Regions from separate parts of the Homo sapiens genome. Here all the other regions are linked to region 3. Evidence: fine-mapped expression QTL. A gene starts in region 3. Each other region holds a variant in brackets. All regions are shown on one strand. Distances are between the middles of the regions. Region 1 overlaps CPNE2 (copine 2). Region 2 overlaps PLLP (plasmolipin). Region 3 holds the start of PSME3IP1 (proteasome activator subunit 3 interacting protein 1).

The links. PIP is the estimated chance that this variant, and not a neighbour inherited with it, causes the effect. A credible set is the group of variants that fine-mapping cannot tell apart.
Region 1: its variant is the best candidate, but not a certain one, in a credible set for the expression of PSME3IP1 in whole blood (TOPMed, PIP 0.69).
Region 2: its variant is the best candidate, but not a certain one, in a credible set for the expression of PSME3IP1 in subcutaneous fat (FUSION, PIP 0.60).

The regions. Positions count from the first base shown.
Region 1 is chr16:57,126,455-57,130,717 of GRCh38, forward strand. It overlaps CPNE2 (copine 2), which reads left to right. Exons shown (of 16, transcript NM_152727.6): 12 at 1,395-1,449. Among named protein-coding and RNA genes, the nearest start is that of CPNE2, 36 kb to the left of the region's middle. The variant A/C (reference allele first, on the strand shown) is at 2,066.
Region 2 is chr16:57,265,019-57,269,018 of GRCh38, forward strand. All of the region lies in intron 1 of PLLP (plasmolipin), which reads right to left. Among named protein-coding and RNA genes, the nearest start is that of PLLP, 18 kb to the right of the region's middle. The variant C/G (reference allele first, on the strand shown) is at 2,454.
Region 3 is chr16:57,183,606-57,187,605 of GRCh38, forward strand. It overlaps PSME3IP1 (proteasome activator subunit 3 interacting protein 1), which reads right to left and starts at 2,434. Exons shown (of 7, transcript NM_024946.4): 1 at 2,216-2,434. RSPRY1 (ring finger and SPRY domain containing 1) reads left to right here and starts at 2,724. Exons shown (of 15, transcript NM_133368.3): 1 at 2,724-2,846. RefSeq lists enhancers at 2,059-2,108, 3,420-4,000 and a silencer at 2,809-3,018.

The DNA.
Region 1 (4,263 bases), 57 kb before region 3:
GCACGGACCCTCCTCCCATGACCTTGCTTCCTGGGGACCTTTGGGTCGGGCTGGGTACCACGGAAAGTCAGTGAAGGGAAGCTGTGTGAAAGTGTGGCAGGTGTGGCTACCAACAGGATATGACATCACTGTCACAGATGGTGCTGATTGGGAGCTCCAGGTCAGAGGATGGAATGACCAGGAGGCTGACACATTGGGAACAGGGGAGGAAGAAGCAGGTGCCAGAGATTTGGCAGGAAAGACAGCAGGCTCAGGAGCCCTGTGTGGACTTGGCCTCCTAGAGAGGGGCAGCCAGGGATCTGTACAACATGCAGAGCAAGGGAGGTGGAAGTCATCATCAGCATGGTTGGGTGGAGTCCCAGGTGTCCAGCTGCCCATTCAGCCCATCACCGAGCTGTCTAATGGGCATTAAGACTTAGCATGGCCCCAGTGAGCTCTAGATGCCTGGCTGAGCCACCATCACTTTGTGCCCAGATCATTTCATTAGCTTCCTCATCAGTCTCCCTGCTTCTGCCCTGGCCCCCAGCTGTGTGTCCCCTCCACGGCAGCCAAAGGGATCCTTAGTAGATGTCTGTTGAGTGCACATACAAATGAAATGTGGTCCCTGTCCTCAGGGAGTTCTCACTTAAAGAGGAAGATAAGGAAGAAATCGTCGGAGTTCTGAGAGACCAGTTTACATGTGAAGCAGGAGCTATGGGAGCACAAAAAGAGAGGCATTTTAGGGTATCAGGGAAATCTACAGAGCGAAGGGGCCATTTTGATTGGGCCTTAGAGGATGAGTAGGAGTTTGCTAGAGGAAACAGATTAGGGAGAGATGTTACAGATGGGGGCACAACAGCATTGAAGTTGGAATGTGAAGGTACCCTATGTGTTTGGGGAATAGCAAGTGGCCAGTGGCCAGGGCTAGGGGAGTGGGGTGTGAAGGGGCGTGGGTGGAAGGAGATAAGACTAGGCTCTGGGACTGGATGACACAGGACCTTGAATGCCACAGGAGGGTTCTCATATTAGTAGAGTTTTCCCCAGCTATGAGCAGGAGGCTGAGAGACAGCCAGTACATTCATTCTACTTCCATCTTGACCTCCTGACCTTGGTTTAGTGGCTGGCTGAAGTCTCAGTTTGAGAAGGATCTAGAAGCTGTGCCCAGGCCCATTGGTTAGAAGTACCATTGTCGTGTCTGCCACAGGTATAGATGTGGTCAGGCCACATGTTCACCAGGTCCCCAGAGGTGGGTTGGGCTCATTAGGTAGATGATCCTAACAGCTTTTTCTAGAGGTGGTGAGCTCCTCCTTTCTGTCCTTGGAAGTGTATGAGGCAGAGTGGGCCCAGCCCTGGGCAGAGGGTCGGGTGGTGTCCTCAGGTGTCTTACAGTGTGTTTCTCTTCTCTCTCTGATTAGTGATAAGATGTTTCCAGCTCTGGGATTCGGGGCCCAGTTACCCCCAGACTGGAAGGTGAGTGAAACCGGAGTTAGTTTCCTTTTGGTTGAGATGGGGTTTGTGTGTGTGGCCTCTCGGGGATCAGCTCTGGAAAGGTCTTGGGCTGGGGCCCTGTTGCCCTGCCTTCCCTGTGTTCACCCCAGGCCACGCTCATTTCTCAAGCCTGATCCTTGGGCAGGCACTGAGGCTGTAACGGGGCAGCACGTTATGTTCTCTGTTTATGAGACCCATGTGGAGTGGGGGAGACAGATAGGATTGCCAGATGTCGCAAATCAAAATACAAGACACCCAGTTAAGTTTGAATTTCAGGTAAACAATGTTTATTTTTATGTGTTTATTTTTATTTATTTATTTATTTAGAGACAGAGTCTTGCTCTGTTGCCCAGGCTGGAGTGCAGTGGCACAATCTCCACTTACAGCAACCTCCGCCTCCCAGGTTCAAACAATTCTCCTGCCTCAGCCTCCCGAGTAGCTGGGATTACAGGTGCCCACCACCACCCCGCAGCTAACTTTTGTATTTTTAGTAGAGAGTTTTACCATGTTGACCAGGCTGGTCTCAAACTCCTGACCTCAGGTGATCCACCGGCCTCAGCCTCCCGAAGTGCTAGGATTACAGGCCTGAGCCACTGTG[A/C]CCAGTGCAGATAAACAATTTTTAAAGTATAAGTATGTCCTGAATATTTCATGGGACATACTTATACTTAAATCATCCATTGTTTATCTGAAATTCAAGGTTTTGTATGGATCTAGGGGTACAAGTATAGTTGTATTACGAGGACGTATTGTGTGAAATATGGACTTTTAGTGTATTCATCACCTAAATAATGTACATTGTACCCAGTAGGTGGCATTTCATCCGTCACCCCTCCATCCTCTCGCTGTGTGGAGTCCTCAGTGTCTGTTATTCCCCTCTGTGTGTCTGTTCTGTGTGCACCCATTGTTTAGCTCCGTCTTATAAGGGAGAACATGCAGTTTTTTGTTTTCTGTTTCTGAGTCATAGTGGGCATCCTGTATTCTATATGGCAACACTAAAGACAGGTAGTGTCATCGGTGCTGAGGTGGGGGCACCGTAGGCCTGTGGGGAGCCGAGGAGGTAACCCAACCCAGCTTGGGGCCATCAGGCTTCCTGGAGGGGGCAAGCTCTAAGCCAAGAGGGGAAAGGGAAGTAGCAGAGTGACTAGAGGTGGCAGTGGGGCAGGGGGAGCCTTCAGGGCAGAGAACAGACTGTGCGAAGCCTGCAGGACGAGCTGGAGGAACTGGCAGAGGTGGGTGATAGACCCTCCATTGGAGGTGAGCAGGGTGGAGACAGATGTGGGCGTTAAAGGGCCACGGGGACCCCTGCAGGGACCACATAGGGGCTCATCAGCAGATTGGCATTTCTAAAGGCCTCTCCTGGCTGCTGAGTGGGGCGTGGCTAGGGCGAGAGTGGGCAGAGTGGAGGGTGGAGAGAAGGGGCGAAGGCAAGGAAACTCAGGGCAGAGGCCAGGACTTTCTGTGTGACCAAGTGAGTGTGGGCCGAAGAGGTCACCAAGATTTCCAACTGGGCACTGAGGCGGGGGTGGTGCTGCTTACTGAGATGAGGAACGGGGTGGGTGCTAGGCTCAGCAGGGGAGATGGTAAGGTGGGAGTCCCAGGAGAAAGGTGGATGATGGCTGGGCACAGTGGCTCACGCCTATAATCCCAGCACTTTGGGACGCTGAGGCAGATGGATCATTTGAGGTCAGAGAGTTTGAGATCTTCCTGGCCAGCATGGCAAAACCCCGTCTCTACTAAAAATACAAAAATTAGCCCAGCGTGGTGGCACATGCCTGTAATCCCAGCTACTTGGGAGGCTGAAGCAGGAGAATCACTTGAACTCGGGAGGCAGTGGTTGCAGTGAGCCGAGATCGTGCCACTGCACTCCAGCCTGGGCAACAGAGTGAGACCCTGTTACAAAAAAAAAGATAAGTGGTTGATGGGTCAATGGGTTTGGGCTCTGGGGAGACAGAGAGAGACCTGGCCACCTGGGCCAGGACCCATGGTGCCACCTCTGGGAGGATGAGATTGCTAGGGAGACAGGTGGAGTGAGAAACAGCCACATGAGGCGGGGTGCAGTGGCTCACACCTGTAATTTCATGCTTTGGGAGGCCAAGGCAGGAGGATTGCTTGAGCCAGGAGTTCAAGACCAGTCTGGGCAACACAGTGAGACCCTGGCTTTACAAAATTTAAAAGTTGGCTGGGTGCAGTGGCTCACACTTATAATCTTAGCACTTTGGGAGGCTGAGGAGGGTGGATCACAAGGTGAGGAGTTCGAGACCAGCCTGGCCAACATGGTGAAACCCCGTCTCTACTAAAAATACAAAAATTAGCTAGGTGTGGTGGCGGGAGTCTGTAATCCCAGCTACTCGGGAGGCTGAGGCAGGAAGATCCCTGGAGCCCAGTGAGCTATGAGTGCACTGCACTCCAGCCTGGGTGACAGAGTGAGACTCTGTCTCTAAAAAATTAATTAATTAATTAATTAAAATAAAAAAAGAGACAGCTGCATGAGAGAGCCAGGCAGATGAAGCGGAGACTGAGCCCGGGGGCAGAGCAGGGAGGAAGTGAAGGAGGGAGGGGCAGAAAGCAAACCCATAAGTAGCAGCATTTATTGGGCCCTTAGAATGTTCTAGATACCACTCTGCCTGCTTTACCAGTTTCAACTAATTCTCACCAAAGCCAATGAGGTAGGCCCTGTTATGAACCCATTTTGATCGTTGAGGAAGCCAAGCAGTCAGGGCTCGGGGAGGAGGGAGTGGGGTTGGAGGCTGCCCCTGGGCCTGGTGAGGTAAGGCTGAGAAGAGACCATCCGTTTCA
Region 2 (4,000 bases), 81 kb after region 3:
CCAGGGCTCAGCACCTGCTCCTCCCCACACTGGGGTGAAGCTCCAGGGATCCACCCCCCAACACACAGCACCCTGCCAGCCTCTGCTGCCCGTCAGCACTCTCACCGCCGCAAGCAGGCCAGGTGAGGGTAGGCAGGTGAGGAAGCCAGGGCGGAGCCACAGGGCCTTGCCCGCTGTCACACACCAAGCTGGGGGCAGAGCCCTTACGAGTGTGGACCCAGGGCAGGATGTCTCAGAACAACACCCTGCCAGAAACAGACACACCTGGAGAGGCCACGAACCCCCAGAGCTGGGGGGAGGCCAGTGTTCTGAAGGAGAACAAACACTTCGGGCAGCACGCCTCCGTCCCTTCTCCAGGTGAGAACTGGGTGCGTCCAAGATAAACAATTATTTTTTCATTTAAAGCCAATTCCTCATGGGCCTCCGCTGCCACTGTGTTGCCAGCTTCCAACTAACTAAAGGAAAGTCAGAAAATGCAATGAACCAAAAATCAAGAAAAGACCAATTCAGGTTTCCACTATCATATGCCTATCAATCACCTGTCCCATGACTCACAGCCTAGGTCACAATAACCACTCAATGCCTTCTCGCTCTGTGCCAGACACATCTCATTGATTCCTCCATCACCAGACCCTCCTCAAATGTTCTATCTGTTATTCCCATCTTCCAAAGGGAATCTCAGGAGGCAATGTGCCTGAGGTCACTGTGGGTAAAGGACAGGGCAGGAGGCCGGGTGCAGTGGCTCACACCTGTAATCCCAGCACTTTGGGAGGCTGAGGCAGGTGGATCACTTGAGCTCAGGAGTTCGAAACCAGCCTGGACAATATGGAAAACCCCATCTCTACCAAAAATATAACATTTAGCTGGGCATAGTAGCATGTGCCTGTGGTCGCAGATACTTGGGAAGCTGAGGTGGAGGATCAATGGAGCCTGGGAAGTCAAGGCTGCAGTGAGTCATGATGGCGCCACTGCACTCCAGCCTAGGTGACAGAGACCCTGTCTCAAAAAATAAATAAAAATTTTAAAAGGATAGGGAAGGACAGGAACCCAGATCCGTGCTTCCTTGGAACCTGCGCTACTATGAGTTATTTAGTGAAGTGTAAAAAATGAGGACACTTCAGCTGGCTCTAGGAGCCAGTCTGGGCTGGGCACCCAGGCTCCCCCCACTGCCCGCCGCCATCCCTGCCCCGCCCTGTGCTGTGCTCCAGCCCCACCCCTGGTTTCCAGATCAGCGAACACAGCGTCCAGATGAAGCCGGTGGATAAGGACTGGGAATTTCTGGCGTTCTTTCTGGCTGTGCTGCCTGGCTCTGTGCCTGCGGAGCTGCCTCGGTTTCTGCCCTAGAACAAGGAAGGTTCGTTCCTGCATTTGAACCAGACAGACTGGTTTCTCCTGGTTCCTGAGCCCCCAGCCCAGTCCCCCAAGAGAGACCCTGCTCGGAACAGGGCACCCAACACAGGCCTCGCTGTGGGCATCTCTCTGGGTTAATATATTTAACAAATGTCTATGGAGAAGGGGCCAAGAAAGATCTCACTGGCAAGGTGATGATAAGCAAAGACCCAGGGAGGTGAGGGAGGGGCAGGGAGGGTGCCACGTGGGTATCTGAGAACAGAACTCTATGCCTTCACCCCTGGGCCCTGCAGGTCTCTCTTGCTTACATGTTCGTCTGTCCCCGTGTTTCTCTGGAGGTGTCTACATGAATATCTAACTGTCTCTCTCCTACACACACAGGCAAACCACATCCTCCCCTCCTTCCCAGCTCTCTGAGGTCCCTGCCATGCCTCCCCAGACAGGTCCTGCAGATAAACAAAGGGAACTGTCTGGAAATCTCAAGGGCACAGGGCCTTTTTTTTTTTTTTTTTTTTTGCTTTTCTGAAAACCTGAATAATTTGGATTAGGAACTTTTTTTTACATATGAAGACTACAGTGTCAAAAACGACCTTTGCATCTTCAAAGAATTTCCAAACAATTGGGTAACGAAGAGATGTTTTTGTTAAAACCACCTGTGGCATCAGAGAGAAGATTCGTCACAAATGCCCAACCAAGAGGCACTCCTTGCTGCAGTGAAACCCTGTTATTACAGTTTCCCCAGAAGCTGCCAACACTGACAGCCAGACAGGCCAGGTTCCTGCAGGGTGCATGCCCTTCACTGACTCTGAGGGAAGTTTTTCCTCATCTCTTATTGTGGTTTGCAATGTGTTCCCCAAAATATGTTCAAGTTCTAACCCCTAGTACCTGGGAATGTGGCCTTATTTGAAAACAGGCTCTGGCCAGGCGCAGTGGCTCATACCTGTATTCCCAGCACTTTGGGAGCCTGAGGTGCATGATCAGTTAAGGACAGGAGTTTAAGACCAGCTTGGCCAATATGGAGAAACCCATCTCCAGTAAAAATACAAAAATTAGCCGGGCATGGTGGTGGGTGTCTGTAGTCCCAGCTACTCAGGAAGCTGAGG[C/G]AGAAGAATCACTTTGAACTCAGGAGGCAGAGGTTGCAGTGAACTGAGATTGCACCACTGCACTCCAGCCTGGGGGACAGAGTGGGACTCTGTCTCAGAAACAAAACAAAACAAAACAAAACAAGGCCTGGCATGGTGGATCATACCTGTAATCCCAGCACTTTGGGAGGCTGAGGCAGGTGGATCACCTAAGGTCAGGAGTTCAAGACCAGCCTGGCCAACGTGGTGAAACCCTGCCTCTACTAAAAATACAAAAAATTAGCCAGGCATGGTGGCATGTGCCTGTAATCCCAGCTACTTGGGAGAGGCAGGAGAATCGCTTGAACCTAGGAGACAGAGGTTGCAGTGAGCCGAGATCGCACCACTGCACTCCAGCCTGGGCAACAAGAGCGAAACTCCGTCTCAAAAAAAAAAAAAAAAGAAAGAAAGAAAGAAAAGAAAAGAAAATAGTGTTTGCAGACATGCTCGAGTTAAGGGGGGTTATACTGGATTGGGGGCATCTCTAATCCAATGACTGGTGTCCTTGCAAGAGAAATGTGGACACAGAGACCACAAGGGGAGACCATCGTGTGAAGACAGAGGCAGAGACGAGAGTGATGCATTTGTAAGCCAAGGCACACCAAGGCTTGCTGGTCACCACCAGAAGCCAGGAGGGGGACATGGGACAGACTCTCCCTCAGAGCCCCAGAAGAAAGCAACCCTGCCAACACTTTGATTTCAGTAACTGAGACAATATATTTCTGCCACCCAGTTTGTGGAACTTTGTTACGGCAGCCCCAGGAAATGAATAGGTTTTTCTCAGCTGCTCTCTGAATCTGTGGATGGGTGTCATGACCTTGTTCACCTGAGTGACACTGGCATTGGTTCTGTTGGAGGGGTGGCCTATCGACTCCTTGAATTCACGCTCTGGCCCTGCCAACTTAACTAGCTGTGTGACCTCAGGCAAGTGGCTTAGCCTCTCTGTGCCCTTGTCTTCATCTTCCTTCATCTTTGAAATGTATCTACCCCCTAGGGTGGTTTTGTTTTGTTTTGTTTTTGAGACAGGGTCTCACTTTGTCACCCAGGCTGGAGTGCAATGGCACTATTGCAGCTCACTGCAGCCTCGAACTCCTGGGCTCAAGTGATCCTCCCACCTCAGCCTCCCAAGTAGCTGGGACTACAGACATGCACCACCACTCCTAGCTATTTTTAATTTTTGTAGAGGTGGGGTCTCCCCATGTTGCCCAGGCTAGTCTAGAACTCCTAGGCTTAACTGATCCTCCTGCCTGGGCCCTAGGGTAGTTTTGAGCAAGGAACTTAGACCAGCAACCAGCATAGGCTTAATATTCAACATGGCCAGGTGTCATGATCACCCTGAGGGGTTAAGAACATGGGTTTTCAAGTCAGGCCCTGGGCCTACTTTCCTGCATTCGCCACGGTGTGTGAGGCTCCTCAGGAGGGTGAGGCCTCACTGAGAGAATGACAGTATCCACATTCAAGCACCAGGCACAGCCCAGGCAGAGATAAGGACCCACGTCAGTGCCAGCCCCACCCACCTGACAGATAAG
Region 3 (4,000 bases):
TACAAGTGTAAGCTACCACGCCCAGCCAAAAATATTAATTCTTAAATAGAAAAGCTAACAAGATAGTAAAGAATTTGGACACAATCTAGAAGGTGAAAACCAGAAATTAAGCCCAATATTCAAAATGGATTTCATCCTGAGGACTTCTCTGACCTAAAAGCTAAAGTTTCAGTGCCTTTATGAGATAACAGAAACAAGTTCAAGCCAGGAGCCCATCCAGGGAGTGGAGTCTGACAACTACCTCCCTCTCCATCTTAATCTTGTGCCCAAAAGAACTACAGCTTCAAAGTAAAGGTGAACTGGGAAGTAAAACAGCAGGAATAATGGACAACAGAAACAGACTCCCCCAAAGGGAATTCAGACAGTGGAATTAAACATAGAGATTATAAAAACAACTATACTTTCCATGTTTAAAGAAATAAAATTAAGCCTCAAAATAGTAAGAAATAAAAAACTGTAAAAGTGTCACAAACCAAACAGAACTTCAGAAACTAAAAATTGCAATATATGATTTAAGATTTCAGAGGCCGAGTTTAATAACAATGGAAATAACTTGAGAATAAATTATCCAGAATGTACTACGAAAGAACAGAGTAAAAGACATAGAGAAAAGAGTGAAAAGGTTTAGTTAAATCGATAAAAAAAAAAAGAGAAACAATGGGAAGAAGCAATATATGCATATAAAATGGCTGAGAATTTTACAGAATTAATGAAAGACACTAATCCACAGATTCAAGAAGTCTAATAAATACCAAACAAATTGAACAAAAACAAACCCATAGTTCCATAGAGCATAGTGGAAATACAGAAAACCAAACACAAAACAATCTTTTTTTTAAACTTGTCGATACTTGATTTTAGACAAAACAATCTTAACAACATATTCTATAGTAAAGAGTGAAACATAATATTTAAGAATGAAGACAAAGTATGTTCAAAAGGTGACTAATGGTGAACACGTTGAAAATGCTTAATTTAGCTGCCATAAAGGCATAATTACACTATGACTGACCCTGTACGTACATCGCACTTGTTACTTGATTTACCACATACGTGGTTTTCAATAGCTAAAGCAGCAGCTTGATTCTAACCAAGCATCACCATTCTTGGAAGATGAAAGTGAAGACTGATAATCAACTAAATGGTTTTGACACAATTATTCCTTTCTTATATCATGAAGCACTTCCCCACAGGGTAAGGACATGAAGACTTCAGTTGAGAAAGATAATCGGGCAGCCTCTACTTTCAGATCCTTACAAATTGTTCGCAGGTCATCTAACTAAAAGACTGTAAAAGCTGCTGTCGGCTCAATACTTTGTATCAAAAAGGAGTCTACCCACTGATTCCCTTCAAATATTTCAGAAGGGTGCCTTCCATTTTATGGTGTCCCTGTGGACACATGAATACACCAAATAACTGATGAATCGACAAATCTTATGTCACAGGTGGTAGGCAAGAGGTCATCGGGAATTCCGATCACCAGGCTCGCATCTGGCTTCTTGGGTCCCACTCCTGAACTAACCAGTCGGGCTACCCGAGCGTGCGGGAGTCTGAGAAACTGCATTTTAAAAGGGCCCCAGGAGATCTTGTTTTCCACTAACATTAAAGAACCACGACTACGAACAAACAGGTCTCCCCCTTTCCTCTGTGTGGACTGACAGTCACAAGGACCACCAACTCTCAAGCATGACGCTTCAACTCTCTTTGTTTCTTAAGTTTTCTGCAAAACGGGCCAGCTGGCTTGTTTTCCGTAATAGAAAATTCGCTTGGCACAGCAACTGGTACATGGCACACAATAAATGTGCTTCCCATCCTGCACTGCCATTCTGGGATTCAACCATTTCCAACCAGACGCCGCACATCCGAGTGAGTAACCTGGACCTGTTCCAAGACCTCTGGAACGGAGCCTGCTACTCACTTGAAACCTGGGTGGCCCTACCTAGCAGAAAATTGGGGAAACCCCATTAAACGCCCGGCAGTGTTGGGCCCGCCTGAAAGGGTCCTCGCCGCGACCCAGATGCCTTCCCGCGGGCACCCTCAGCTCCCCTCAGGCTGGGCCCGCAAGCCCCAGGCTTCGGCTACTCCGGACAAGGAGCGGGTGCGCGGACTGAGAACAGGCCTGGCCCTAACCCTAACAGCAGCCGCAGCTCATCTCTTCCGTAAGGAAGCTGGAACCCAGGTGTCGCCGCCAGGCCAGGACCGAGGCCGCACTCACCTACCGGCGCGCGGGAGGCGAGACGACCTCACCTCGGCGGCGCCCACCCCAAACCGCCACCGCAGAGCCGCTCGCTCTTAAAAAAGAAAAAAAAATGAAAGGAAGAAAGAAAGAAACAGAGGAAGGAATGAATGAAAGAAAGAAAAAAAAAAAGAAAATAGCCTTTGCTTTTGTATTTCTTTTGACCCTTCAGGGCTTCCTGTTCCTCACCGCCACAATAGAGTCCCGCCCCACTTCCGGCGACGTAACCCAATCCGCGGAGCTCTTCCTCCCCGGGAGCCCGATGGAAATCCGGTACCCTGAAAACGAGCCGGAGAGACTTGATTGGGCCATTCACGCCTCAGGATGAGGACTGGCCAGTCTGCGCCTGGAGGGCGGGCCGGTCCCGCTGATCACGTGACACGATTTTTGAAAGGTGATTGGCTGTCAAGGAGAGGGCTTGCCACCGAGGAAGGGGCGTTTCCTAGGGGACTGAGGGAGGGCTGGGGCGGTACGAAGCGGGGGTGGGCTCTGCGCGTAATGGCAGCGCCGTGGCCTCGCGTCCATCTTTGCCGTTCTCTCGGACCTGTCACAAAGGAGTCGCGCCGCCGCCGCCGCCCCCTCCCTCCGGTGGGCCCGGGAGGTAGAGAAAGTCAGTGCCACAGCCCGACCGCGCTGCTCTGAGCCCTGGGCACGCGGAACGGGAGGGAGTCTGAGGGTTGGGGACGTCTGTGAGGGAGGGGAACAGCCGCTCGAGCCTGGGGCGGGCGGACCGGACTGGGGCCGGGGTAGGCTCTGGAAAGGGCCCGGGAGAGAGGTGGCGTTGGTCAGAACCTGAGAAACAGCCGAGAGGTTTTCCACCGAGGCCCGCGCTTGAGGGATCTGAAGAGGTTCCTAGAAGAGGGTGTTCCCTCTTTCGGGGGTCCTCACCAGAAGAGGTTCTTGGGGGTCGCCCTTCTGAGGAGGCTGCGGCTAACAGGGCCCAGGTGAGAGGCAGCTATCTATCTCCTGGGGTGGCTCCTGGTACCGATGGGGTCCTGACCTACTCAGGGGTGCCCGGGATAGAAAGGGTAGATGAAGGGACGCTTTAGGAGGGTTCTTTTTGTGGAGTTTACGGTCTAGGTGGCACGGATGAGGCATACCTCCCCGGGGAGATTTAGAAACGCCTTGGGATAGAGAGAGAATGGGGCTAGGAAGCAGGAGCTAGAACTAGCGGAATGTCCTACTACGGAAGCCGGAGCTGAAAATTGGGTAAGGACCTTGGGGAGAGGGGATTTCTGGGCGGTGATGGGAAGAAGACACCTCCATCCACAGGAAAGCCAGAGTGGGGAGTAGTGAAAGGGAAACGGGAATTATTCCCTCTCTCTGTAGATCGACCAGGTGTCCCAGACACAGGATCCAACTGCTTCCGGGCTTATTGCCCGAGTGGGGTGGGGAGAGTCTATCCCACCAACACCCCTTGCGTGAGTCCAAATTAGGCATTTGTCTCTCCTGCTGCCTCACTTTCCCCGTCTTTGGGGAGGGAAACCGACTGAGACCGAGGCGGTCGGCTGAGACTCCGAGGTCCTGTCTTGTATAGTTCTCTGAGAGAGGTTGCTCCCCCTGGAGTGTTGTACTTTGAACTTTGAAGGGTTAGAAGTGTCTGTTATCGACTGAGTAGAATCCCGCAGTTTTCCAGGCCCTTTACCTACCATCTGTTCTTGCTTAGTGGAGTGACTTAACCTCCTTAAGTCTCTACTGTAAAATAACCAGCGCAGTATGTGAAAGTACAAATTACAAGCTGCGTGAACGTAAGTTAGTGTGATT